Linked DNA regions of Homo sapiens. The protein of the gene in region 5 purifies or fractionates together with the protein of the main gene of each other region. This does not show direct contact. Each region holds a gene or a part of one and is shown on either strand. Other genes may lie near its edges.

Region 1 (3,500 bases), on a different chromosome or scaffold from region 5:
AGTATCAGAGTAAAACAGTCCCCAAACAAGCCTCTGGGCTCATTCTCAGATCAGTGGGAGTCTTCCCTACTCTGGAGAAAAGAGGATGTCTGAGGCAGCATCAATGTTCCTAGGAAGACCCTCGCTGCGAGGAAGAGGCTTCAGCTTAGACAGCAGAGTCTTACCCTCCTCTGGGCCCATTAGCCCCACAAACAAAATGTTCTCTTCTCACCAGGGGACTACTAACCTGCTCAAGGCCCAAAGAATAAGGGATCTTGGAGTCTGAAATCTTCATTCTTGCAACCTTAAGTCCTCATCATCTGTAAGCTGATGTTCGTTCACAGGTGAACTATCTGTTACACCTACCAGGAAGAGTCAGACCTTTGCCCCTGAGTGGTCCCATCTGTAATTACAATAGACCAAACATAATTACTTAATGGATCAACTTCTCTGATAGAGGAAAGGCAGGAAGAGAAAGAGCGAAGCTGTCCTGTGTTCACACTAATGTCCGTGTTTTACAAGGTGACAGGTGTGTGAGCACCAGGAAGGATACATGATATCCATGATAGTGGCCTGATAGCTATGACACTTGAACACAGTGAAGAAAGTGCAGGGCACAGGGCCAAGAAGGAAATCTGAGGAGAGAGAGGTCACCTTGGGACTTGAGTAATGGATACTTCAGACTGGCTGTTTTCACTCTAAACCCTGGGGGTTACGCTTCCTCAGCATGCTGCCTGTATATGCTTTATCGGTGCTGATGCCCAACCCTTCATCTTTAAAGTCTTGGGACCACTCTTCTTTGGTGGTTTCCTCTTGCTCAGGGTAGCTATCTGCACTGAATCCAGCATTCTCTGCCAAGACAGCAGGATCCTCGTCTTCATGAAAACAGCAGGAACATGTTTCTGGCTTTGGATCACACGAGGTAACAGAATTATCTTCCTGGGCTCTGGGGTCAGTGGGCAGACTTTCCCAACCCAAATGATCTGATTCTTCCTCTTCTATCATTCCCATTCTTTCAGCTATTTCTTCAGCAGAAAGTTCTTTTGGGTCAGGGTAATCCACCAAGATTGTTTCTTGCCTACGCTTGATACAGTCTGAAAGGTCATAAATTGGGTAAGTCTCTTCAGGGTAACCTAGAGAGAAAAGTAGCACAAAGTATTACAAAGAATGTCTCCTCAAAAAAAAAAAAAATAGTGTCAGGTTCAAAGAGGATTCTCAGGCAGCAGCCATCCTATCCTAACAAATCCATTCAAGACATCTCTAAGATTCCAATAGTTCTAAAGTTTTACTTGAGCAAATTCTTAGCAATCTGGCTATCCCAGTGCTCTTTGAAATACAAACTAATTCAGATGAAAATCCCTTCTTATGTGTAGGGTGCTTGGGGCAGAGTTAAGTCTTATACCATGTGTTTTTGCAGTACTGATGAAGATTAAACAAACAACATGAGCCTTTAGTTAAAACAAAAAAAGCATCAAAACCAGACAGAGACAGCACAGCTCCAGGCTAATGTTTATAATTTCTATTTGGAACAATTTCCAAATCTTCCTTGGTGGAGTGGGGAGAGGAAAGGAATGCTAAGCTCTTTGAAAAATACACCATGAAGCTTTCTATTTATCCAAACAATTGAAATGGCTTGCAAGTGTCAAAAATAGAGAGCACTTTAGCAAGGCATGCCCAAGATCCCGAAAGGACAAGCACTGCATTTTCGGAAGACAGAATTCCTGTTGTTGGCTTCTTCATCTTCACAAAATGGAACAAAAGAAAACAACAAACTGGCAAACAAAATGAGTAACACTGGTACTGAATCCCAGCTAGGATAATGAGAAAAGAGAAACTGTTGCCAAATTACCAAACTAAATGAAATAAATCTGTGTCCGCCAAGCAAGCCTGAGCAGCAGATGGGCCGTGCTGGAGCTCACACACCAGTACTGGCACCAGCGGCCGTAATCACGATACAGTGCAGAAAGCTGGAGGATTCAGAACCCATTTGCCCATTATGATAATTGGCAAATTCAACCCTAACGTAAACCATTTTTTGCCTACAACTGTGACAAATAAGTCTTTTTTGGTGCAATGTAGGGTGTGTGTGGAGACATTTCTACATTTACTGCTTTTTCTGACTATAAAAATCATACAGACTCATTTGTAGAAAATTTGAAAAAAATACAGGCTAGTTTAAAAAAGAAAACACAAATCACCCATAATATCTTCACTCATAATAATTTGCTTTTTTCTGGTCTTTTTTTAACCGTATATACACATATATTTTCTTTTCTTTTCTTTTCTTTTCTTTTTTTTTTTTTGAGACGGAGTCTCGCTCTGTCGCCTGCCCAGGCTGGAGTGCAGTGGTGCAATCTCGGTTCACTGCAACCTCTGCCTCCCCGATTCAAGTGATTCTCCTGCCTCAGCCTCCTGAGTAGCTGGGATTACAGGTGCATGCCACCACACCTAGCTAATTTTTTGTATTTTTAGCAGAGACGGGGTTTCACTATGTTGGCCAGGCTGGTCTCAAACTCCTGACCTCAGGTGATCCACCCACCTCGGTCTTCCAAATTGTTGGGATTACAGGCATGAGCCACCGCGCCCGGCCAACATGTATTTTCTTATTCCCCTTTTTTAAAAAGAAGGATCATATTTGTGTATAAAAGGTTATATCCTGATGTTTTTCAATTCAACATTATATCATGAGCATCTCTCCATGTCATTAGGCATTTGAAAGTTGGTTGCAAAATATCTCATCATATAGCTACATAACTGACATGATTTACTAGTCCTCTTTTCTAGGGCATTTAGATTCTTTCCAATTTTCCCCTATTATAAGTAGTATACAAGTTAAGATTTCTTAATATAAATCTATGTCCACTTCCCTAGTTCTTTAAGATAGACTTCTATAAATATGAAAACTAGACCAAAGGGAATGGACATTATAAAAGCCTTTTTTATACTGTGCCAAATTACTTTCCAGAAGAGTGGTATAAATTTTCAATCCTACCAGTGATATAAAGACTGTCCATCTTATGACACCCTCACCAGCACTCACAGTAGTATGTTAAGAATTTTGCCAATGCAGTCTTTATTCCAAGGCTTAACTTACTGCGGATGGAATGCTAGGTAAAGTGGAGCTTAGCTAACCCAAGACCCTCAGCCACCATGGTCAAGGATAGGATCTGGAGAAGCTGCTTGCTAGTCAGCTCCCAGCCACTGAATGCTTAAAAGAAGTCCATTTGCTGGCATGTCCCTGTCTTCCCACACTTAGAACAAAGCTTATCTTTGAATTTTCATGACTATCTGCTTTAAGAGGGAAGGTCACCCAGACTCAGGCTCTCAGCCTACCCCAACACCAGGCCTCAGTCCAGCTCTGCATCCCTAGTCATAATGCCTGCACCCACAGACCCAGCCTCCATGCTGGCCCCTGCAGATACAGACTCCGGGCCCACCCAGCATCAGGCCAGCAACTATGGCCCCAGAATCCAGTCCCACCCTAGGTTCCAGACAAAACCAGAGCCAGGTCTGCCCACATA
Region 2 (3,500 bases), on a different chromosome or scaffold from region 5:
AGTACAGGCATTCTCCCATCTGGACATGGGTGGAGGTGGCATCCCTGAGGAGGGGGATGAGGCTGGGCTGGCAGCCTTAGTCACAGGGCGGGATGGGGCGGGATGGATTAGCTGGGAGAATCTATTGACAGATGCAGATGAACCTAAGGGGGAGGCAAAGAGCAGGGCTGCTGCATAGGAGAGAAAAGAGCTGATACTGCAGGGGGTATGGACAGAAGTGTGACCAGTGACTGGGAGCAAGAATGCTTGGAAAAGAGCAAGAGCTGGTGAGGTCTGGGGTGCAGTGGAGAGGCAGGAGCCAGGGCTGGCAGCAGATGATATTCTTTTTTTTTTTCTGAGACAGGATCTCACTCTCTTCCCCAGGCTGGAGTGCAGTGGTGTGATCATGGCTCACTGCAGCCTCAACCTCCACCTCAACCTCCCATTAGCTGGGACTACAGACATGACCCTGGCTAATTATTTTTGTTTTTGTAGAGATGGGGGTCTCACTCTGTTGCCCAGGATGACATACTTTTAAAGGTTAAAGTGATAAAAACCCAGAACTTGACTTAGACTTAAAAGTCTCTGGAGAAGGAGAGAATGACCCTGATGAAAGGATGAGCCGTCTTACTTTCTTTCAGTGTCAGTTTCTCAAAAGACTTGAACCTCAGGCAGAGCTTCCCCTTGCCTGGCAGGCAGGCTGCTGGGCCCTATGTGAGACCCCTGAGAGGAGGCAGTGTGCCATCATAAGAGAACTCTGGAGTCAGAACCCTAGTTGTTAGCCTTTGCTCTGCTTAAATATCCTACGGCTCAGTTTTCTTATCTATAAAATGGGGATAAATCCACCAGCTCCACTGACTTCAGAGGGTGAGATGGATGTGGAAGGACCTTTTAACTTGTAAAGTTTAGTACAAATGTGAAGCGGATCTGGCCTTAACTCCGAATTTCCCTTTTCCCAGCAGAGGCAGGCCCACCCAGGAAATGACTGATCTTGTGTCTGGCTTGCTCCTCAGGGTCTCCACAGAGCTGCGCTATCGAAAACAGCCCTGGGGGTTAGTGAAAACGTTCATCGAGAAGAACTTCTGGAGTGGGCTGGAGGACTACTTCCGCCATTTAGGTGAGCACTGCAATCCTTGCTGCTAGCTGGGCTGCAGAGATGGTAAACTGCACTGCGGCCGCCCACCATTCAGGGGAATGGTATTGAGAATAGAGGCAGAGACTGAAAGGTGAAGTAGTTTCATGAGGTACCCACACCTGCTTCAGAAGTGGACACCAAATTTGGCATGTATGTGGACAAGTGCATTTTTCTAGACTGTGTCTAGGATGTTTAAGAGATCATTGAGGGATCTATAAAACACCCCTCACCCCAAAAGGAACCACAGACCTAGTGATATAGGTGGCTCTGTGACGAGAAGTATTTGTAAAATGCCTGTGAATGCATCTATTTAAGACGTGTATGCCCCAAATTGTATACATGAGGGTGCAGATATTGGGAACATATGGTTCCTTGCAATGTTGAACAACCCCAGAGGAAGGGTTTGACTGGGGCTGGGTCCCACAAGTACCTCCTGAGGCTCATGGGCATCCCTGAGGATCCTCAACCCACCCAACCAACTTCCCAGAATACAGAATAGGAAAATGGTTCTGCAGAGAGTTGCATTGGAGGGCTGAAGGTGGCCTCTCCTGTGGTCCTTTTGTCTCTGATAGAGAGCGAGCTGGCCAAAACGGAGAGCACTTATTTGGCTGAGATGCACAGACAATCTCCCAAAGAGAAGGCCAGCAAGACTACAACGGTGCGGAGGAGGAAGCGTCCCCATGCCCACCTGCGAGTCCCTCACCTGGAAGAGGTGATGAGCCCGGTCACCACGCCCACAGATGAGGATGTGGGCCACAGGATCAAACATGTGGCAGGTGTGTGCCAGGTGGGGACAGGTCGGGTGGACTAAGCTTTGGGCTGGAGCTGCATGCCCACACCAAGGCACACACATGCACACTCATTTTGCACCTTGGCTATAATTTGTATATAATTTGAACGTAAGTCACTAAATCTGAGGCTCCCAATGCTCTGTTTCTCTTTGCTCTTTAAGTTCCTCAGCCCCAGCTGAACCCATATGTGTGCTCTAATTAACAAAAGCTGCCTTAGTGTTTATGCTTTCGTGTTGCCCTAGTTCCATGGCTACCTGCATAGGCTCAAGTATGAAGCTTCCAAGTTCTTGGGAAATACACTAAGGAGATCCCACAGCTCAGACCACAGAGATTACCTCATTACACAAAGATCAGGGAGACCAAGACAGTCCCCGTTCACTTCAACCCGCATGGGCCAACCCAGGCTTGCCCTCTCAGGCCGTGGACTCCCTTAATATTTCTTCCTCTTCCCACCCAGCCATTCACATCCTTGTCTTTGCTGAATCCTGGAAACCTGGGACTCTAAGGGGCCTTAGAGACCAACTAATTGAGTTGGATATGGACAGGGGAGGCAGAAGAAGAGGGGAGAGTGGGGGAAGAGTGCCAGCCTTCTGCATGCCGCCTAGCTTTACCCCTAGCACTTCCATGTTACGTGTTTTGCATTTAAGATTTCTGACTGACATTGCATTTGAGTAAACTGACTCTCAGAGAGCTTACATGACTTGTCCTCCATCATGTAGCTTACTAGGAATAGATCCAGACCCAGAAGCCAGCCGTCTTTAGTCCTAGCCCAATGCCACATCCTCTCCCATAGCTGAAGATCCCTTTGTCCTGGGCCTGTGTATCCTAGCTACATGGGCCTGTTGATTTTCTCATTTGTTCAATGATGACCTGACCCAACCCATGACCTTGCCCTTGAGGATTTTACCTTCTCCTCTTGGAGAGCTGGCAGTCTCCGCATATCGTTGCTGTCACAGTGTCATGGACATTTTTCCATCAGTCTCTGATGTTTGCTGTTTGACCAGTGTCCCCACCAGCAGTTGTTGGACTTGTGGGTCACCATGGTGATGGTCTCTTTAATTCTCCCCACAGGTTCCACACAGACGCGGCATATCCCGGAGGACACCCCCAACGGTTTCCACCTGCAGAGCGTGTCCAAGCTGCTGCTGGTTATCAGCTGTGTGTAAGGGATTCTAGGTTTTCCTATCCTGCCCTCACCACCTTCCCTTTCCAGCCTGGTGCCCCAGCCCTCGTCTCTTGAAGCATCTGAGCACCCTTACTGTTTGCCCTGGTTTTTGCCTTATCCTCTAGTCTTCTCTGTCTGGATTGGTTGCTCTGCCTGTTGCTTACCTCTTCGCTTCTTTTTCTCTGCTTTGTTCAGCATTTACTGTATGCTAGGCCTTCAGAAGAAAATGCTTCATGCAGCATCCATACCCTTCAGGGTTTCAGTTTCAAGTGGGTGAGAGAGACAGAACATTTGAAATTCCTGCACAGATGGTTAAATGCTAACAGAGAAATGCTAGAGGGCATTTTAGGAGTTCATTCCTTCATTAGATGTTCTGGGTGTCTGCTCTGTGCCAGGCACTGGAACTGTGCACTCATGGAGCCCACACGTT
Region 3 (3,500 bases), on a different chromosome or scaffold from region 5:
GGGGGCCTGATGGTGGGCAGGGCTGCACTGGGATGCCCAGATCTCCAGTCCAGTCCAGGAAGAAGCTTGAAGTCCAGGGCGGTGCTCAGAGCTCCACTTCCAGGGTCTTCATGCCTCCTTCAGCTCTGAGCTCCCAGCATTGCCTGACTTACCGTCGGAGGGAATTGGAGGAATTGGCCCTTGACCAGAGTTTAGAGCTCCCACCCACTGTCCTGGGCTATCAGGACACCCACTGCCCAGCTTCCTTTTCAGAAGCAAAGACTTGCCATCCAACTCCATTTCACCACCTGATCATGGGAGGAAAGCAGAGTAGGGAGAGGCACCAGGCAGTGAACAGTGGCAAAGGCAGCTGGGTTCGAATCCTGTAGGTCCCTGGTGGGTCACACATCTTCTCCTTACTTCCCGTGTGTATTATTCCCATGCTGGTTCAGAAAGTGCTTTCCTATCTCTTATCTCATTTCCCCAGACTCCAAAATTCACCCGCTTCCCCTCTGCCTGTTGGGTAGTCAAGGACTTTCCCCTCTGAGCCTCGTCTCCCTGAGGTAGAATGTGCGTTTGTATTTGGTGACATCTGAGGCCTTCTCTGCCCGCAATTCTGGGCTCCGGGAATCTTAGAAGGGCTCTGAAGAGCAAGAAAGGTGGTGGCAACAGGAGACATTGCACCCCCAGGGAAGGGCTGCGGGCAGGCAGCTGCCTGCACTTCCTGCCTCCTGAAGCAGCTGCCGGTTCTGTGTCATAAGCTTCTTCGAGTCTCAGGTCCAAGAGGGGCTTCCGGAGGCCCTGCCCTTTCCCCAGCCAGGCTCTGGCCTCAGTGACTGCCCGGCCTTACAAGTGGATCTAGGTGTTCTCTTTGCCCTGTATCTCATAGAGTCACAAGAACTTTAGGGCTAGTTTCCCTGGCTTGGGACAGGAAAAAGGAATAGAAGCAAATCAAACTTGGTCCTTGCCCTAGGGAAGTTCATGGTCTGGCAGGTGAGACAGGCTTGGACCCTTTCACCAACCACCCCACATGTTCAGTCTTCTCAGTATTGAGATAGGGGGAAGCCTGGGGACCGCAGGAACCCAGAGGAAGGTGTGATCAGACTAGGCCAGCCTGGGAGGGGCTGGGGAGGCTTCCTGGAGATGGCAGCATTTGATCTGGGCACTAAGAAGTGAGAGGCACTCCAGCGGGCAGTCCCAAGTCAAGGAGCCCAGCTTGGAAGGGGATTTGTCTCCAAGAGGGATGAGCACAGAGGAGCCCCTCCCAGCTGGCCTACCCCAAATTCCCCACACATATATATATATTCTAGATCCCCTAGCTGGGCCTACTGCTCTGTGGGGACAGCTTGGGGGAATACAGTGTAATATCAGCCTCACTGTTCCCAGCTGAATGACCTTGGACAAGGCCCAATCTCTCCAAGCCTCAGTCTCCTCCTTTGCAAAATGAGAATAATGGTGCTTACCTGGCAGGACTGTGGGTAAATAAGGTGTTTAAACATTCTAGTAGGTGCTCATTAAATGCAAGGTACATTCCCTTTCCTCTCCTGACTCTTCTAACTTCTGGCTTCTGGGGCTGGGGCACTAGCACACCCTAGGGCAGGGAGGTGGGGGTGGTCCTCACCCTGTCTGGGCAGAGCATCTTACCATCTTACAGGGCACTTTGTCTTGGTGTTGTGCAGCCAGGCCTAGGGTCAGCAGGGCCAGGAGCAGCAGGATCTGGGGTCTCATGGCTCTGTGTAAGGCGGAGAGGAAAGGGGAACACTGTAAGCCCACTGGCTCCTTCCCACTGCCAGCCCCCACTCCCACCCATTCTGTGCCTGCCCTCAGGGAACCCCAGAGCACGGCTGGAGCTGGAATAAAGATGCTTTGAGCAGGGCAGAGAGCCAGGTGGGAAATGGGCCTGCAGCCCATCATAGTAGGCCTCTCACCCAGGCCAAGGAGCCGCCCATTACCCAGGGGAAGCAAGAGTTTTAAGCGGCAGGTGACTTGGTCAGACGGGGGTTTTCAAGAGACCCCACCTGGCGGAAGACAGCCTGGAGGGGATGCACAGAAGGCTGACAGACCCTAAGGGTTACCCTAGGCCATGCTCAGGGCCAGGGACTGGGGGCATGGAGATGTAGAGGGGGTTTGGAGGGTGGGCCTCTGACTACATTTCCACCCAGGCCACACAAGTCCTCCGTACCAGCTCTTCAGTCCCCACATGCAATTCCTCGTTTTCTGCCCACTCCCCCACCTTTATTTTGCCCTTTTCCTTTTGATTCTCTGATTCTCGAGCCCTTGCCATTGTTCAAGGGCTGGGCCCGGGCCTTGGCAGGAAGTCCCACAGGAGGCCTGGCTGCCCCGGCACTGCTCTGCGGACTTCCCCAGGAGCAGCCTGGCAGGCCCTGTACTTTCACTGAAGCCACACTCCGGCCTCCTGGGCCAGCCCTTCCCTCTAAGAGCAGCCAGGGGTGGGGCTAAGGGGACCGCACAGGCCCTTAGCAGGGTTAAATCCCAGTGCTGCTGGAGGCTCACTCACTCCCTCACTAAGGACATCAGCCAAGTGCTAGGGATGTACAAATCCACCCATGAATTTCATTCATTCATTCACACCTTTACTGAATACCTCCTCATGTCTGGCTCTGTGCTGGGAACTGGGAACTCAAAAAACAAATGAACACGAAAAAGAAGTGACAGTGACGGTGATACAGACAGAGAGTCTTAAAGAGGGACACAGAAAGCCTTCCAAGAGCACCAGGCGCACAGTCACCCACATCTGACTGCTCCCTCTTGTCTCCTCTACCTTTCTGCTGTGTGATCTTACAAGTCGCTTCACCTCTCTGAGCCTCAGTCTCCTCATTTGAGGTTAATGGCAGCCATGCCAAGTTTTTGTTGAGAATCAAACGAGATGCCACCTACAGAGCCTCCATTATGCAGTAGGCCCTCTCCTCAGCACTTTCTAGGCATGAACTCATTCCATCCTCACAAAAATTCAATGACTTGGTTCCATCATCATTTTACAGAAGGGAAAAAGAAGTCTCAGAGAGCTTAGGTACTATGCCCGAGGTCACACGGTGAACAAGCCACCGGCCCAGGTGAGTCTGGCTCCTGGGTCTGTGCCCTTCAAATCCACACTCCCAGGCCTCCCACAGTGGGTGCTCCCTCAGTGAGTGCTGAACCGCGATTCTGAAGGATGCTGCAGGAGAAAAGGCATTCACAGGGCATTTGAGGGCAGTGTCTTTGACTGTTGGAACCCGCTAGTGATGAGCTATGGACGAAGATGGCTGCTCTGAATCCCATCTCTCTTGAAGGCGCACAGACCACAGCCGGACCCGGTAAACCCTATTCCCTGGCTCCCCTCAGGGCCACAGGCGCTGCCCCTGCAGCTGCTCTGCTCTCACCTGCATTACAGGTTGTGCTTTCACAGGAAACTTTGTTCTGCTGTTTAAAAAGCAGAACGCCACCGCCCGTTAGAAAGTTAGCATATTCAGAACTGAGTGAAAACCCCTCCGGCAGGGCCTTCCAGGCCACTGGGGAGCATG
Region 4 (3,500 bases), on a different chromosome or scaffold from region 5:
GGTTTGAGTGCTGCCAAGGGATAGCCAAAAAACTCTGCAATCAGGAATGGAGAGTTACAAAGAGCATTTGGAAGTCCACTCTCTCAATTATACACAGGCAGAGAATGAGTACCAGGAGTGATAGTTATCAAACTATTTAATTCCAACCAGTCACAACAGATGCCTACTGTAGACTTGGAGTCTTAGAGATTCCTTGGTATACCTTTTGTTGCATGACCATGGGGGTGGTCTAGAGAGTTCTGAGGAATGGGACAAGGCAGCCCCAGGTAATAATGGAGGGCTCAGGGGTTAAGGGGAGCAGCTAATTATCAATTGGTGTGAGAGTGTTCTATTATTTCAACAGTCAATGTAGTCATGTGAAGGCATACCAACTGACTATCAGATGCAGGTGAAACACAAAAGATTTATTTGGGATTTGAATCTCTGAGACCCTGACTTGGGAATTTTCAAGGCTTTGGAGGAATCAGAAATCAGCTTCAAGCGGCTTGAAGAGCCCTGGTTAAGAGCTCAAGCAATGACACTCAGCCATTATCCTTACCTGGTTGAGGTCATGATGTCATAATGTCCCTATCCATATTCTTGCTCAGAATGTTTGGAAAGCATATTACTATGACAACAGAGAACTAAATAAAGGGCACATTTATCACTCCCCTTAACCTCACTCTGACTTTGCTCATCTCTGGATCTGTATCTCTCTCTCTACATCCTACCCACTTTACCCATCCTCAGTGCCCTTGACCATTGCTTGGCACATAGCAGGTAATGATTTGCAGATTTCAATGCTGTAGAACAGTGTGCATAAGGGAAAGTTTTGGTCACAAAGCTTAGAGTCAAGAAGAAAAGATAGAAATCCTGACAATATTCCTACCTGGCCCAGCACTGGTCTCTCCAAGGTAGCCATCCATGTCAGTGGTCCAGTCCCAGGACTGCTTCACTGTAGATGTTGCTATGAATATAGAGAATAGGGTCAGAGATGTCTCTCTTCTTTCAAAAAGTTGAGAGATAGGAGATGGTTGCAAAGGTTGGAGTCCTTCCCTGGCCATTTGTGCTGTACTTTCCAGGGTACCTGACCATGTTATCAACCACTAGTACCATGAGATAAGGCATCTTCATTTCTTACTGTTAGGTGTGGGCAGTGAGAAGAATTCCCATCGAGGGGAGGTAATGTACCCAAAGTCACACAGCAAGTCAAACTAGGAGCAGAATAGAATTTAGTGTTCTTGTTTTTTGTATTTCCAATGGGAGTAATTCTAACCCTCTCTTTCCTTTTGCCTCAGAAGTTTTCACAAAAAAAGAGTATATATTCATCATTGTTACCTTTCTTTTGTTTCCATTCCTTTACTGCTATGTTCTCTCTGAGGAACCAAGTGACTGTTTATTAGCCATTCCATGGCATTGTGATTCCTTTCTTGGCTACGATGACACCATTTTGAACCTCTACTACTTCCTCAGACTCTAGCAAAACTCACCTTTCAAGGGGTATGTCATGGTTGTAGGTGCCTCAGTCTTGGTCTTGAGTAGCTTTGAGGAGTCTGCAAGGAAAAGGGAACCGATTGAAGGGACCTGGTACCCTTTGGTGAATAGTTTAATGCCCTAGGGAAATAGGAAGTAAGTAAAGGCCATTCAGGTCCATACTTGGACCTGCCTCAACACTTCTGTCATGATGCTGGTAAGTCCTGTGTTGCTTGTTCATCTTTCATACATCAATCAAGGACAGAGTTTTTAACCCAGGATTAATAGATCTCGAAGGAACCTGTAGCTAGAGTTCAGAGAGTCAGTCAACTTGGATGGGAAAATATATTTTATTTTTACTAACTTCTAACTGAGACCTAGTAATTAATTCTCTTGAGAGAAACTTGGGAAGTATCATAAAGAAAGTGGCAATGGGTGACATCAGTGAAAATGGTGACATAATAACCTCCAGAAATTTACCCTTTAACAACATCAGTGAAATAATGCAAAATTTGACGTAATCAACTTTTTTTTTTTTTTTTTTTTTTTTTTAGAATTTTGCAAAATAGCCAAAGGTTTGCAGCACCTTAGACAGGATTTATGGAAGAAAAATATCCCAGTTTTGGTAAGAACAGCAAGCTTTGTGCTGTTTTAACTTCTCCTAGTCCCCTTACCCCTTCTACCTCAGAGGTAATCTTGAACATACAACCCCATTCCAGGTGCTGGAGTGAGCCCAACAAACTTCATTTTTGAATAATTGCCATTATTTGGCCTGTCTGGTGGTTCCCTGAAAGACCTGACTCAAAAGACTTGTTTTATTGGTCACCCAGTGCTAAGAGCCTCTCCCCAGGGATGGGGTAGCATTTGTCACACAGCTGCCTGAGGCAATGGATAATAGGCGAGAAAACAAAAAAAACTAACCAAAATAGCCTTAAAAATGGTTGAGGAATAAGATTTCCATAGGGATTTTGAAGAGTTCTGACACAGTTCTGGGAAACTAGGAGGCCACACACAAGCACAGGGCCATGTACCTGCTCAGAAAAGACATGAGAAAACCATAAGCTTCTCCCTCTTGCTAGCAGAGGAAACAGCATGCTCCGTTTTAGATGTGGCGAAACATATTAGTAGATAAGTCTGGATAGGTAGGCTGAAAACAGACTAAAAGGGTTTGGGCTTTGTTCTTTAGTTGGAAAGATCCATGGGGTGTAACAGAAGGTTACACCTTTTGAGAAAGGTTTACTTCCTTTTGAGAAAGGAAGCAAAAATTGTTCAGTCTATTTTTTTTGGAAATAATTCTGACAACAGTGTGGTAGGATTTTCAAAGGTAAGGCAATAGCATATTTTCCCCATTCATTAACAAATACAGTATTCATCTAGTGTCTAGTGTCTTCTTTGTGCCAGATACTTTGCTGGGCTCTGAAAAACAGCAATGAAGTAGACAGGTAGAATTCTGCACTCTTGAATTTTATAATCTAGTGACATAAAATATATACTCAATAAATATTGAATAAGTTGATGACTTCGTAAGAATGTATGAACATGGGGAGAACATTTAGAAGATGATTGAAATTGTTTTTTAAAAAAGAATATGAGACCATGAGGGTATAGGAAGAGAAAGAAAGAGCCTAATAAGGTATCTGATTCAGTAGGTGAATTCACAGCACTTGGTAATATTGATGATTATTTGACGATGCGAGGTAAAAGAGAAGGAGGAGTCAAAGGTACTGCTATGTTTTCTAACAGGTTTGAGGAACAGGTTTGGTGAGTAAAAGGTACGATCAGTTTTGAACACGCTGAAATTAGAAATGAAGCTGTCCAGAAGGTAACTAGACACTGGGATCTAGCAGTCAGGAAAAAATAAATACAGATAATATTATGGTTGGAGAGTCATCAGACTACAGGTGATATTTGAAGCCACAGAAGTAAATAAAATCTCCTGATAATATAGAAATACATGCAGAGATGAATAAGAATTGAGTCTTTGAGAACATTTACAATTAAGGAGTGAATGAAAAAAGAGCCAACAAAGGTGTCTCAGAAGGATCATT
Region 5 (3,500 bases):
GCCACTCACCTTGACCTCTCAAAGTACTGGGATTATAGGCATGAGCCACCGCACCCACCCAACACTTTTAAAAACCAAATAAATAGCTGAGTACTAAAATCAGTACTTTGCCTATCTTGTAGCAAGAATAGTTGAACATTAAAGAGAATGAATACTATGTTCATGTCCAAAGTAAGGATTCCTGTCTCAGAAAAGAGAGATACTGTCTGAGGCTTGAGTCGTCTTGCTCAGATGTAATAAGAATTTTTGGCCGGGTGTGATGGCTGTAACCCCAGCACTTTGGGAGGCTAAGGCAAGAGGATTGCTTGAGTCCAGGAGTTCAAGACTAGCCTAGGTAACATAGCGAGACCTCATCTCTACTAAAATTCAAAAAAATTAGCTGGGTGTGGTGTCACATTCCTGTAGTCCCAGCTACTTGGGAGGCTGAGGCGGGAGGATCACGTGAGCCCAGGAGTTTGAGGCTGCAGTGTGCCATGATCGTGTCACTACACTCCAGCCTGGGCAATAGAGCAAGACCCTGTGTCAAAAAAAGAGAATTGGCTGGGCGTGGTGGTTAATATAATCCCAAAGTGCTGATATTATAGGCGTGAGCCACCATAATCAGCCCCCAATTTAAAGGAAAAAAAAAATCTAGAATGGAAATCGCTAAAAAAGGTTTTCACGGTTTTGTAGTATAACATTTTTATAAAGGTCTGTATAGACCACAGAGATATCAAGGACAGGTATTGTAACCTAATGCAGGTGGTGAGTTTTAGAATTTCTGTTTCAAGAATACTTTTAACAGTGTGGAGTCTATGGGGTTGAGGAAGGGGAGGGGTGAAGAAGCATAGGCGGAGAGAGAAAACAACTCACAGGCTCTAAAAAAACCTGTTAACATTATATAAACATTAGAAATTCATTTCATAAGGGAATCAAAATTATGCTTCATATAATTGATAGTAATAATCTGCTTAATCACACCTTACATTTCTGTCTTACTTGTAACTTTTCCAAATGTTTTCATATTATCTCATTTTATCCTCACAAGTGTGAAATAGGCAGAGTAGGTATTGCCATTTTATAGGAAACAAACCTGAGGAATAGAGAACTAAAAAGCTGCAAGGCACTATTGAAAGAGTACAGAAACAGAAGTTAGGAGACTGCAGAGAACAGTGTAAATTCTATGTGGAACTCTATGTTGCTGCTAAAATGGATAAGGGAAATTCTATATAAAGAAGTGGACATGACTGGGCCCCGTGGCTCACGCCTGTAATCCCAGCACTTTGGGAGGTCGAGGCGGGTGGATCACCTGAGGTCAGGAGTTCAAGACCAGCCTGGCCAACGTGGCGAAACCCCGTCTCTACTAAAAATATAAAAATTAGCTGGGCGTGGTAGCATGCGCCTGTAATCCCAGCTACTTGGGAGACTTGGGAGAACTGCTTGAACCCAGGAGGCAGAGGTTGCAGTGAGTCGAGATTGTGCCACTGCACTCCAGCCTAGGCAACAGAGTGAGACTGTCTCAAGAAAAATAAAATAAAATAAAAAACTAAAAAAAAAAGAAGTGGACATGTCAAACAGAAACCTGTTTTTGTTAAGAAAGAAACACATTTGTTTATATAGAAAAAGCAAATTATATTTATGAATTATATAACAGCAATCATCTTGGGGCAGGACTACTAAGGGCTTTTATATTATACATTATATTACCTTTTTAATAACAAGTATGTGTTGCTTCTTTTTAACTTCTCATTTTGAAATAATTTTAGATTTAATTAAACAGAAAAGTCACAAAAATAGTACAAAGTACTTACACCTTAGTGAAAGGCATAAGATACCCTATTTATTTATTTATTTATTTTTAAAGAAAAAAAATAGCCAGGCATGGTGGCTCTTGCCTGTCACCCTTGCTACTTGGGAGGCTGAGGTGGGAGGATCGCTTGAGCTCAGGAGTTGGAGGTTGCAGTGAGTTATGATCACACCACTGCGCTACAGCCTAGGAGACAGAGTAAGACTCTGTCTCTGAAAAAAATAAACAAACAAAAAAGGGCATATTTCACACTGTTAGATTTGTCATTGCAGTGGCTGCACATGTACGCGCGCGTGTGTGTGTGTGTAATTGACACTAGAAAGGTTCCCTTTGCAGTATGCAGGAGGCCTAGAATAGAAAAAAGAAATATAGAACAGCTTGGTCTTCTCAGCCTGCTCCCCTTTTTTGGATTTTATACAAGGAGGTGCCTGCAGAATGCAGCAGTGGTTCCAGTTTATTTTATGTTAAGGCTCACACACAAATTTCTGTTTTTTTTTTTTTTGTCAAAAAATTTTTTTGTCTCTGGATCTCTTTACACTCTTAAAAATGATTGAGGCTGGACACTGTGGCTCACACCTGTAATCCCAGCACTTTGGGAGGCTGAGACAGGTGGATCACTTGAGGTCAGGAGTTTGAGACCAGCCTGACCAACTTGGAGAAACCCCGTCTCTACTAAAAATGAAAAATTAGCTGGGCATGGTGGCGCATGCCTGTAATCCCAGCTACTTGGGAGGCTGAGGCAGGAGAATCACTTGAACCCAGGAGGCAGAGATTGCGGTGAGCCGAGATCGTACCATTGCATTCTAGCCTGGGCAACAAGCGAAACTCTGTCTCAAAAAAAAAAAAAAAGATTGAGAATATCACAGAGATTTGGTTTATATGGATTATATCTATCAATATTTACTGTATTAGAAATTAAAACTGGCTGGATGTGGTGGCTCATGCCTGTAGTCCCAACACTTTGGGAGGTCAAGGTAGGAGGATCACTTGAGCCCAGGATCTTGCTATGTTGACCAATCTGGGCAACATAGCAACATCCCATCTCTACAAAAAAAAAAAAAAAAAAATTAGCCAAGCATGGTGGTATGTGCCCGTAGTCCTAATTACTCTGGAGGCTGAGATAGGAGGATCACTTGAGCCCAGGTTGAGGTTGAGGCTGCAGTGAACTATGATTGTACCACTGCACTTCAGCCTGGGCAACAAAGGAAGACCCCAGTTCTGGGAAAAAAAAAAAAAAAAGAAGAAAGAAAAAAGTTAAAATAGAAAAATTTAAAACATTAGTTCACTTAAAAGTACCAATAAATTGCTGAGCACAGTGGCTCACGCCTGTAATCCCAGCACTTTGTGAGGCCAAGGCAGGCGGATCACCTGAGGTCAGGAGTTCGAGACCAGCCTGGTCAACATGGTGAAACCCCATCTCTACTAAAAATACAAAAATTAGCCAGGCATGGTGGTAGGCACCTGTAATCCCAGCTACTTGAGAGGCTGAGGTGGGAGAATCACTTGAACTGGGAGGTAGAGGTTGCAGTGAGCCAAGATTGCGCCATTGCACTCCAGCCTGGGCGACAGAGTGAGACTCCATCTCAAAAAAAAAAAAAAAAAAGAAAAGTAACAATAAATTAATAAATTCATGAGAAGACTGGTGTGGTTTTACATTTTTGCATAGCTCTTTAGTGTCTGGCTTACTAGAAGATACTTTGAGAACCACCGCTGT
Region 6 (3,500 bases), on a different chromosome or scaffold from region 5:
GGGGCGGAGATGGCGCCACTACACTCTAGCCTGGGCAACAGAGTGAGACTCCTTCTCAAAAAAAAAAAAAAAAAAAAGCAAGTAAAGAATGAAGCAACAAGAGCAGAGATTTATTGAAAACGAAAGCACACTCCACAGGGTGGGAGTGGGCCAAGCAAGCGGCTTAAGGGCCGGGTTACAGAATTTTCTGGGGTTTAAATATCCTCTAGAGGTTCCCACTGGTTACTTGGTGTACACCCTATGTATATGAAGTGGCTAAAGTGAAGTTACAAAGTCATTTACTGGGTGTACACCCTATGCAAATGAAGAGGATGTTTCCTGCCATGCTGAAATACAAAGCTATTTACTTGGACTTAGAAGGTTGGGGTTTTTCCGTTTAATTTAGTTCTAGGAAGTCCTTAGGTTCCCTGCCCCCAGACCCTGTTCTCCTGCTTCACAGGGGTCATGCTGTGGGCTAGTGGGAGAACAGAAACAAGGACCCAGGTCTCCCACCAGTTAGCCCAGTGCTCTCTCTCCTGCACTGTGGTACCTTACAGCAAAACTCCTGATGGAAAACTGGCCATGGAGTGAGTCTGTTCCAAAGTTCAAGGCAGATAATTGCTTTGTACATGTACATATGAAAGAAGCCGGAAAGATCATGTTTGGAGAAATATAAGGAATTTGGTATGTCTGCGGTATAGGATCCATGACGGGAAGAGGTGGAAGATGAGGCAGGAAAGTCGGAGAAAGTCCAGTATACACACAAAAAGTTAGGATTTTATCCTCTATGTGGTGAGAATTATTGGAGGATTTAAAGCAGGGGAACAAGATCAGATTACATTTCAGAAAGATTCCAGTGCATGGTAGAACGTGAGCTGGGGAGGGAGAGGGAAAGGCAAAGGCAGATGGGAAACAGAGACCAGAGAGGAGACTATGGAGGGCTTGACTACGCAGTAGCATGGGTGAGAGGAGCCAGGGGAGTCAACTGCTGTTGAGCACATAAAACCAACAAGGCTAGGTGCTCACCTGTTTAAAGGGCAACAGAGAGGAAGATGAGTCAGGGACTATCATATTGCCATATTTATAGAGTGCTTACCAAGTGCTAAATGTATTTCATCTCATGCAATCATCCTAACAGCCCTGTACTATTACCAATCCCAGTTGACGGATGAGAATACTTAAAACACAGAGAAGTAACTTGCCCAAGAGTATAATGCTATTAAGGGTTGAAGCAGGAATCAAACTAGAAGGTGAGCTTGTAGCCACTACATTATTCCCATCTTAGTTTTCCACCAGGGGGTTACCGGGTAGATAATGACTCTATTAACCAAAATGGAGATGTGAGAAGTATGTACCCCTCCCCACTACACCCCAAACTTTGGTAGATAAGAGGGGTGGGAATATGACTTTTTCCATTTGGGACATTCTGAATTTGAAACAACAAGTGGAAATGTGAGTCTGGAGCTTGAAGCAGAGATGGCCTCATTTTATAGGTGAGGTAACCGAGGTAGAAGTTAACCAACATGCAACCTCCTTCCCAAAGCTTTGCTTGAGCAGTAAGAACTTGGGGTTTTGAAAGTAGAGAGAAAATTTTAAACTGAACAAATCTTTCTAGGGATGTTGAGGTCTATATATATTTTGGTTAATGTAGGAGTCTCCTGAAGAAGGTAGAATATTCACTTTGGAGATACCAGTATAATTTGATTTTCACTGAAAACCTTCCTCTGTTGATACTTTGCTGATGTAGAACAAAACATAACTCTAATCTTTGTCAGTATAATTGTTCCCAGTGCAACAGTGGAGGTAGATTTTAATGATCTGTGAGGAATCTGCTATCTTGTTCTCCTTGGGCTGGCCTCTGAATTCCACCAGGAGTCATCCCTAACATGATGGCTACCTCAAAGGCCTTCCATGTTCATTTAGTACCATAAGCAATGGTGGTGAACTTCAAGCTTATGGTTCCCTTAACCGTGCTGTGTTGTGTATTTTCAACCCTTTTCTTTTTTTATGAACAAGTGAACCAAACCTTTTTCTATGAAAGCCCCAACCATTTTAAAGAGCAAACAAAACTTGTTCTGTTGGTTTAGTGCCTCCTCCTCTCCCATTACCAAGCAGTAACATAATCTCAAATCTTCAGTATCAGCCCACTGAGCTTTGAGAGCTAAGGGTACTTTACAAGTTAAGTGTCCAGAAGCACCTACCACCACGTTCGTAGACCACCGACTGACTGATCCCAGCAACTGGCATCACTGACCTGCACAGCCAGGCTTGGGGCACCCCAGATCACACATGCTTCCACTTTCTAAAACCAGGTGTGTTGCTGTCATGGGAAATCTAATTCCAGTCCGAGGGCACCATTACTGGGAGGTGGAGGTGGATGAGCATTTGGACTACAGAGTTGGTGTGGCCTTTGCAGATGTCCGTAAACAGGAGGATCTGGGAGCAAATTGCCTCTCCTGGTGCATGAGGCACACATTTGCATCATCAAGGTAAAGTAAAATCTGGATACTCACAATTAAAATTTGCTTTTGAAAGATTACAGCAAGACCTTTTCACTAGCAATAATTAAGACACACGTTATATTTTACAAATATTTTAAGATATTTCAGGAGTTGCTGCCAGCCACTTTCCCTAAAGTCCAAGTAAGAGGAGAAAGAGCAGCTTTTCTTCAACTAAAAATAGCTAAAATTTATGGAGAATTATGTGCCAAGTACTCTTACATGCATTATCTCATTTACTTCTCACAATTGTGTTATCTCATTTGAAAAATCAGAATGCTGGGTGCAGTGGTGTGCACCTGTAGTCCCAGCTACTCAGGAGAGTGAGGTAGGAGTATTGTTTGAGCCCTGGACTTCAAAGCCAGCTTGGGCAACATAGCAAGACCCCGTCTCTAAAAAAAAAAAAATAATAAAATAAAAAAATAAAATAAAATAAAAGAATAAAAATAAGAAGACCACACCTCACAGCAATTAGATAATCCAAACGACATGGATTTGGAACTTGGATTCAAACTCAAGCAGTCTGGTTCCAAAGATTTCATTCCTAACCACTTAAGTGATAGATTTTTCATTTCTGTTCACCTTTAGTATTAAGCCAATACAGTTTGCTTTGAAGCCCCAGTTCCATCTTTTTAAGTAAATGTGGGCAAGAGGCTTAGTAGTTATGGCTAATTCTGGTTTGCTCCTGCTGCTGGGCACTCTGTCTTTACACATGGAGTAGTTCCATATAGTGGGAAAAAAAGTCTCACGAAGCCCAGGCCAATGAATACACTTTCAGACTTAGAAGGCCATGGTTACAACCTTCCTTCACCTCAAAAACTGAAAAACAAGACCCCACACTGCTTTCCTATCACACCTTGTAAAATGGGGCCTCTGACCCTCCTTGATTTGATGAATCCTATTAATGTTCATCCAATGCTCTCTGCCCATGATCCTCTATCATGGTTATTTACACATTATGTGTCATGCCCAAGCATAAGTGGGAAAACCAACTTCCCCTCCGATAACAGATGAAGACTCTAA
Region 7 (3,500 bases), on a different chromosome or scaffold from region 5:
GAAACAGCCCTGGGGGGGCTGGAGCCCTGAGGGCTGTCGTACAGAGCAGCCCTCCCACTCTCAGGTGCTCTGCCGCTGCAACCACCTCACCTACTTTGCTGTTCTCATGGTATGTATGCATCCTGAGTGGGGCTCAGAGCTACAGAGGGCCCTGTGTCTGTGGCAGAGGAGCAAGGCAAAAGCTGGTGCAAGGGACAGAAAGTCCAACTGAAATGGGCTTAAGCAAAAAACAAAAAAAACTTTATGGACTCATGTTTCTGGAAAGGCTGGGTTAGGCTTCAGGCATGGCTTGATCCACGGGCTGATCACTAAGATCACTAAGATAGCACTCTATCTTTGTCCCTCAACTGTGCTTGCTCTGTGCTGGCTTAGCCCTCAAATAGGATCTCCTTATGAGATAATAATATAGCTGGCAGCAGTTCCAGGCTCATGCCCTGCTAGCTTTCAGGCCAGTGGAATAAAATCTTCTTTTACCCAGTTCTGCCAGCCATGTGCTCATCCCTGACCCAATCGCTATAGGCAGAAGGAGGGAGGGCCCTGCTTGACCAGGCCTGGCACCCCTTTCTGCACAAAGAGGGCAAAGTGGTGGAACCCCACAGGTGCATAGGGAGTGGGAGAAGGGAGGCACTCATAGAAGAAGAGGGAGATGGGAGATGTGGAGGGGGCAAAACTGACTGTATCTGCCATGGCCTTGTTCAAGCCAGGTCCATGGCTAGGCTTGTGGGGAAGGGGACTTGGAGAGGAGGCCTCAGGAGGTCCCTCTGACTGAGGCTGGGAGGAAGGGCGATACTATGCTTCTGGCCTCCAGCCCCTCTTCCCTCCTGCAGCAACTCTCCCCAGCCCTGGTCCCTGCAGAGTTGCTGGCACCTCTTACGTACATCTCCCTCGTGGGCTGCAGCATCTCCATCGTGGCCTCGCTGATCACAGTCCTGCTGCACTTCCATTTCAGGTATTCCGCTGCCACAGTGCTGGGCCTGCCCTGCACTGTGGCACATCACGCTTCCTTGTGTCCCATTTAGTCCACTAGAACTGGGTGTGCTTCTCCAGAGGGTGGGGACCAGGAGGCGGGAGACCAGCCTTGTGGTGCGACTGCTGTGGGATCCCTGCCCCTTCTTCGCCTCAGTTTCCCTGTCGGCATGCACCTATGCACCCAGTGGGTAGTGCTGCCTGGGTGATGTCCCTGGGCCATGGAGGACCATTCTCTCACCTGCAGGAAGCAGAGTGACTCCTTAACACGCATCCACATGAACCTGCATGCCTCCGTGCTGCTCCTGAACATCGCCTTCCTGCTGAGCCCCGCATTCGCAATGTCTCCTGTGCCCGGGTCAGCATGCACGGCTCTGGCCGCTGCCCTGCACTACGCGCTGCTCAGCTGCCTCACCTGGATGGCCATCGAGGGCTTCAACCTCTACCTCCTCCTCGGGCGTGTCTACAACATCTACATCCGCAGATATGTGTTCAAGCTTGGTGTGCTAGGCTGGGGTAAGCACATCATCTCTCCTCGCCTCCTCAGACTTCCAGGTGGGCAGGGTATTGATCCCCTTTAGTCCTTTCTTTCCCCTCCTCCTCATCGTCATAGTGGCCATTACATGACCACCAGCTGTGAACTCTGTCTACACCCACCTCTACTTTCTATGTTACTAATTTTATCACCTCTTCCACCTCCATCATCATCATCGTCACCTCCTCCACCACCATTATCACCTCCTCCACCTTCATTATCACCATCACCTCCTCCACCTCCTCCACCACCATTATCACCTCCTCCACCTTCATTATCACCATCACCTCCTCCACCTCCATCACCACCATCATCATCTCATCCACCTCTGTTATCGCCATCACCTCCTCCACCTTCATCACCACCATCGTCACCTCCTCCACGTACATCACCACCTTCTTCACCACCATGATCACCTCCTCCACCTCCATCACCACCTCCTCCACCATCATCACCATCATCATCACCTCCTCCACCTCCACCACCTCTTCCACCTCCTTCACCACCACCATCATCTCCTTCACCTCCACCACCACCTCCTCCACCTCCATCACCTCCATCATCACCTCCTCAACCTCCATCATCACCTCTTCCACCTCCATCACCTCCATCACCACCACCTCCACCTCTGTCACCTCCATCACTACCTCCTCCACCTCCATCACCTCCATCACCACCTCCTCCACCTCCATCACCTCCATCACCACCTCCTCCACCATCATCACCTCCATCACCACCTCCTCCACCTCTATCACCTCCGTGATCACCTCCTCCACCTCCGTCATCACCATCATCACCTGCTCCATCTCCTCCACCTCTATCACCACCATCATCACCTCCTCCACCTTCATCATCACCATCACCTCCTCCACCTCCATCACCACCATCACCATCTCCTCCACCTCCGTTATCGCCATCACCTCCTCCACCTTCATCACCACCATCATCACCTCCTCCACGTACATCACCACCTTCTTCACCACCATGATCACCTCCTCCACCTCCATCACCACCTCCTCCACCTTCATCACCATCGTCATCACCTCCTCCACCTCCACCACCTCCTCCACTTCCTTCACCACCACCATCATCTCCTTCACCTCCACCACCACCTCCTCCACCTCCATCACCTCCATCATCACCTCCTCCACCTCCATCATCATCACCTCCACCTCCATCATCTCCATCACCACCACCTCCACCTCCATCACCTCCATCACCACCTCCTCCACCTCCATCAACTCCATCACCACCTCCTCCACCTCTATCACCTCCATGATCACCTCCTCCACTTCCGTCATCACTATCATCACCTGCTCCATCTCCTCCACCTCTATCACCACCATCATCACCTCCTCCACCTCCATCATCACCATCACTTCCTCCATCTCCTCCACCTCTATCATCACCATTATCACCTCCTCTACCTCCATCATCACCATCGCCTCCTCCATCTCCTCCACCTCTATCATCGCCATCATCACCTCCTCCACCTTCATCATCACCATCATCACCTCCTCCATCTCCTCCACCTCTGTCACCACCATCATCACCTCCTCCACCTCTATCACCATCGTCATCACATCCTCCATCTCCTCCACCTCTGTCATCACCATCGTCACCTCCTCCACCTCCATCATCACCATCACCTCCTCCATCTCCTCCACCTCTATCATCATCATTACCTCCTCCACGTCTATCATCACCGTCACCTCCTCCATCTTCTCCACCTCTGTCATCACCATCATCTCCTCCACCTGCACTATCACCATCATCACCTCCATCTCCTCCACCTCCATCAGCACCATCATCACCTCCTCTACCTCCATTACCGCCTTCATTTTCTCTACCTCCTTCACCACCATCACCACCTACTCCACCTCCATCTCCACCATCATCACTTCCTCCACCTTCTCTATCTCCAGCAGCACCATCACTGGTACCTTCATCACCGTCCTTGCCCCTTTCTTGCTTATTTCTATTTCCTCAGCAGTTCCCC

The links.
Region 1: the proteins of MACO1 (region 5) and RIC3 purify together in Homo sapiens (co-immunoprecipitation; one large-scale study listed by IntAct). This does not show direct contact.
Region 2: the proteins of MACO1 (region 5) and GRAMD1B purify together in Homo sapiens (co-immunoprecipitation; one large-scale study listed by IntAct). This does not show direct contact.
Region 3: the proteins of MACO1 (region 5) and LRRC32 purify together in Homo sapiens (co-immunoprecipitation; one large-scale study listed by IntAct). This does not show direct contact.
Region 4: the proteins of MACO1 (region 5) and VSIG4 purify together in Homo sapiens (co-immunoprecipitation; one large-scale study listed by IntAct). This does not show direct contact.
Region 6: the proteins of MACO1 (region 5) and FSD2 purify together in Homo sapiens (co-immunoprecipitation; one large-scale study listed by IntAct). This does not show direct contact.
Region 7: the proteins of MACO1 (region 5) and ADGRG5 purify together in Homo sapiens (co-immunoprecipitation; one large-scale study listed by IntAct). This does not show direct contact.

Annotation. Positions count from the first base shown.
Region 1 is NC_000011.10:8,110,026-8,113,525, forward strand, and holds part of RIC3 (protein RIC-3 isoform a precursor), read right to left. Parts: intron 1,113-3,500; coding exon 673-1,112; 3' UTR 1-672. UniProt on the Homo sapiens protein: Molecular chaperone which facilitates proper subunit assembly and surface trafficking of alpha-7 (CHRNA7) and alpha-8 (CHRNA8) nicotinic acetylcholine receptors.
Region 2 is NC_000011.10:123,611,769-123,615,268, forward strand, and holds part of GRAMD1B (protein Aster-B), read left to right. Parts: intron 1-992; coding exon 993-1,096; intron 1,097-1,686; coding exon 1,687-1,890; intron 1,891-2,976; coding exon 2,977-3,067; intron 3,068-3,500. UniProt on the Homo sapiens protein: Cholesterol transporter that mediates non-vesicular transport of cholesterol from the plasma membrane (PM) to the endoplasmic reticulum (ER).
Region 3 is NC_000011.10:76,664,248-76,667,747, forward strand, and holds part of LRRC32 (transforming growth factor beta activator LRRC32 isoform a precursor), read right to left. Parts: intron 1,712-3,500; 5' UTR 1,708-1,711; coding exon 1,624-1,707; exon of another isoform or gene 1,619-1,623; coding exon of another isoform or gene 1,601-1,618; intron 1-1,600.
Region 4 is NC_000023.11:66,026,581-66,030,080, forward strand, and holds part of VSIG4 (V-set and immunoglobulin domain-containing protein 4 isoform 1 precursor), read right to left. Parts: intron 1,533-3,500; coding exon 1,470-1,532; intron 947-1,469; coding exon 869-946; intron 1-868. UniProt on the Homo sapiens protein: Phagocytic receptor, strong negative regulator of T-cell proliferation and IL2 production. Potent inhibitor of the alternative complement pathway convertases.
Region 5 is NC_000001.11:25,437,397-25,440,896, forward strand, and holds part of MACO1 (macoilin), read left to right. Parts: intron 1-3,500. UniProt on the Homo sapiens protein: Plays a role in the regulation of neuronal activity.
Region 6 is NC_000015.10:82,761,070-82,764,569, reverse strand, and holds part of FSD2 (fibronectin type III and SPRY domain-containing protein 2), read left to right. Parts: intron 1-2,291; coding exon 2,292-2,468; intron 2,469-3,500.
Region 7 is NC_000016.10:57,566,643-57,570,142, forward strand, and holds part of ADGRG5 (adhesion G-protein coupled receptor G5 isoform 1 precursor), read left to right. Parts: coding exon 1-109; exon of another isoform or gene 110-827; coding exon 828-949; exon of another isoform or gene 950-1,207; intron 1,208-1,213; coding exon 1,214-1,482; intron 1,483-3,500. UniProt on the Homo sapiens protein: Orphan adhesion G-protein coupled receptor (aGPCR). Ligand binding causes a conformation change that triggers signaling via guanine nucleotide-binding proteins (G proteins) and modulates the activity of downstream effectors, such as adenylate cyclase.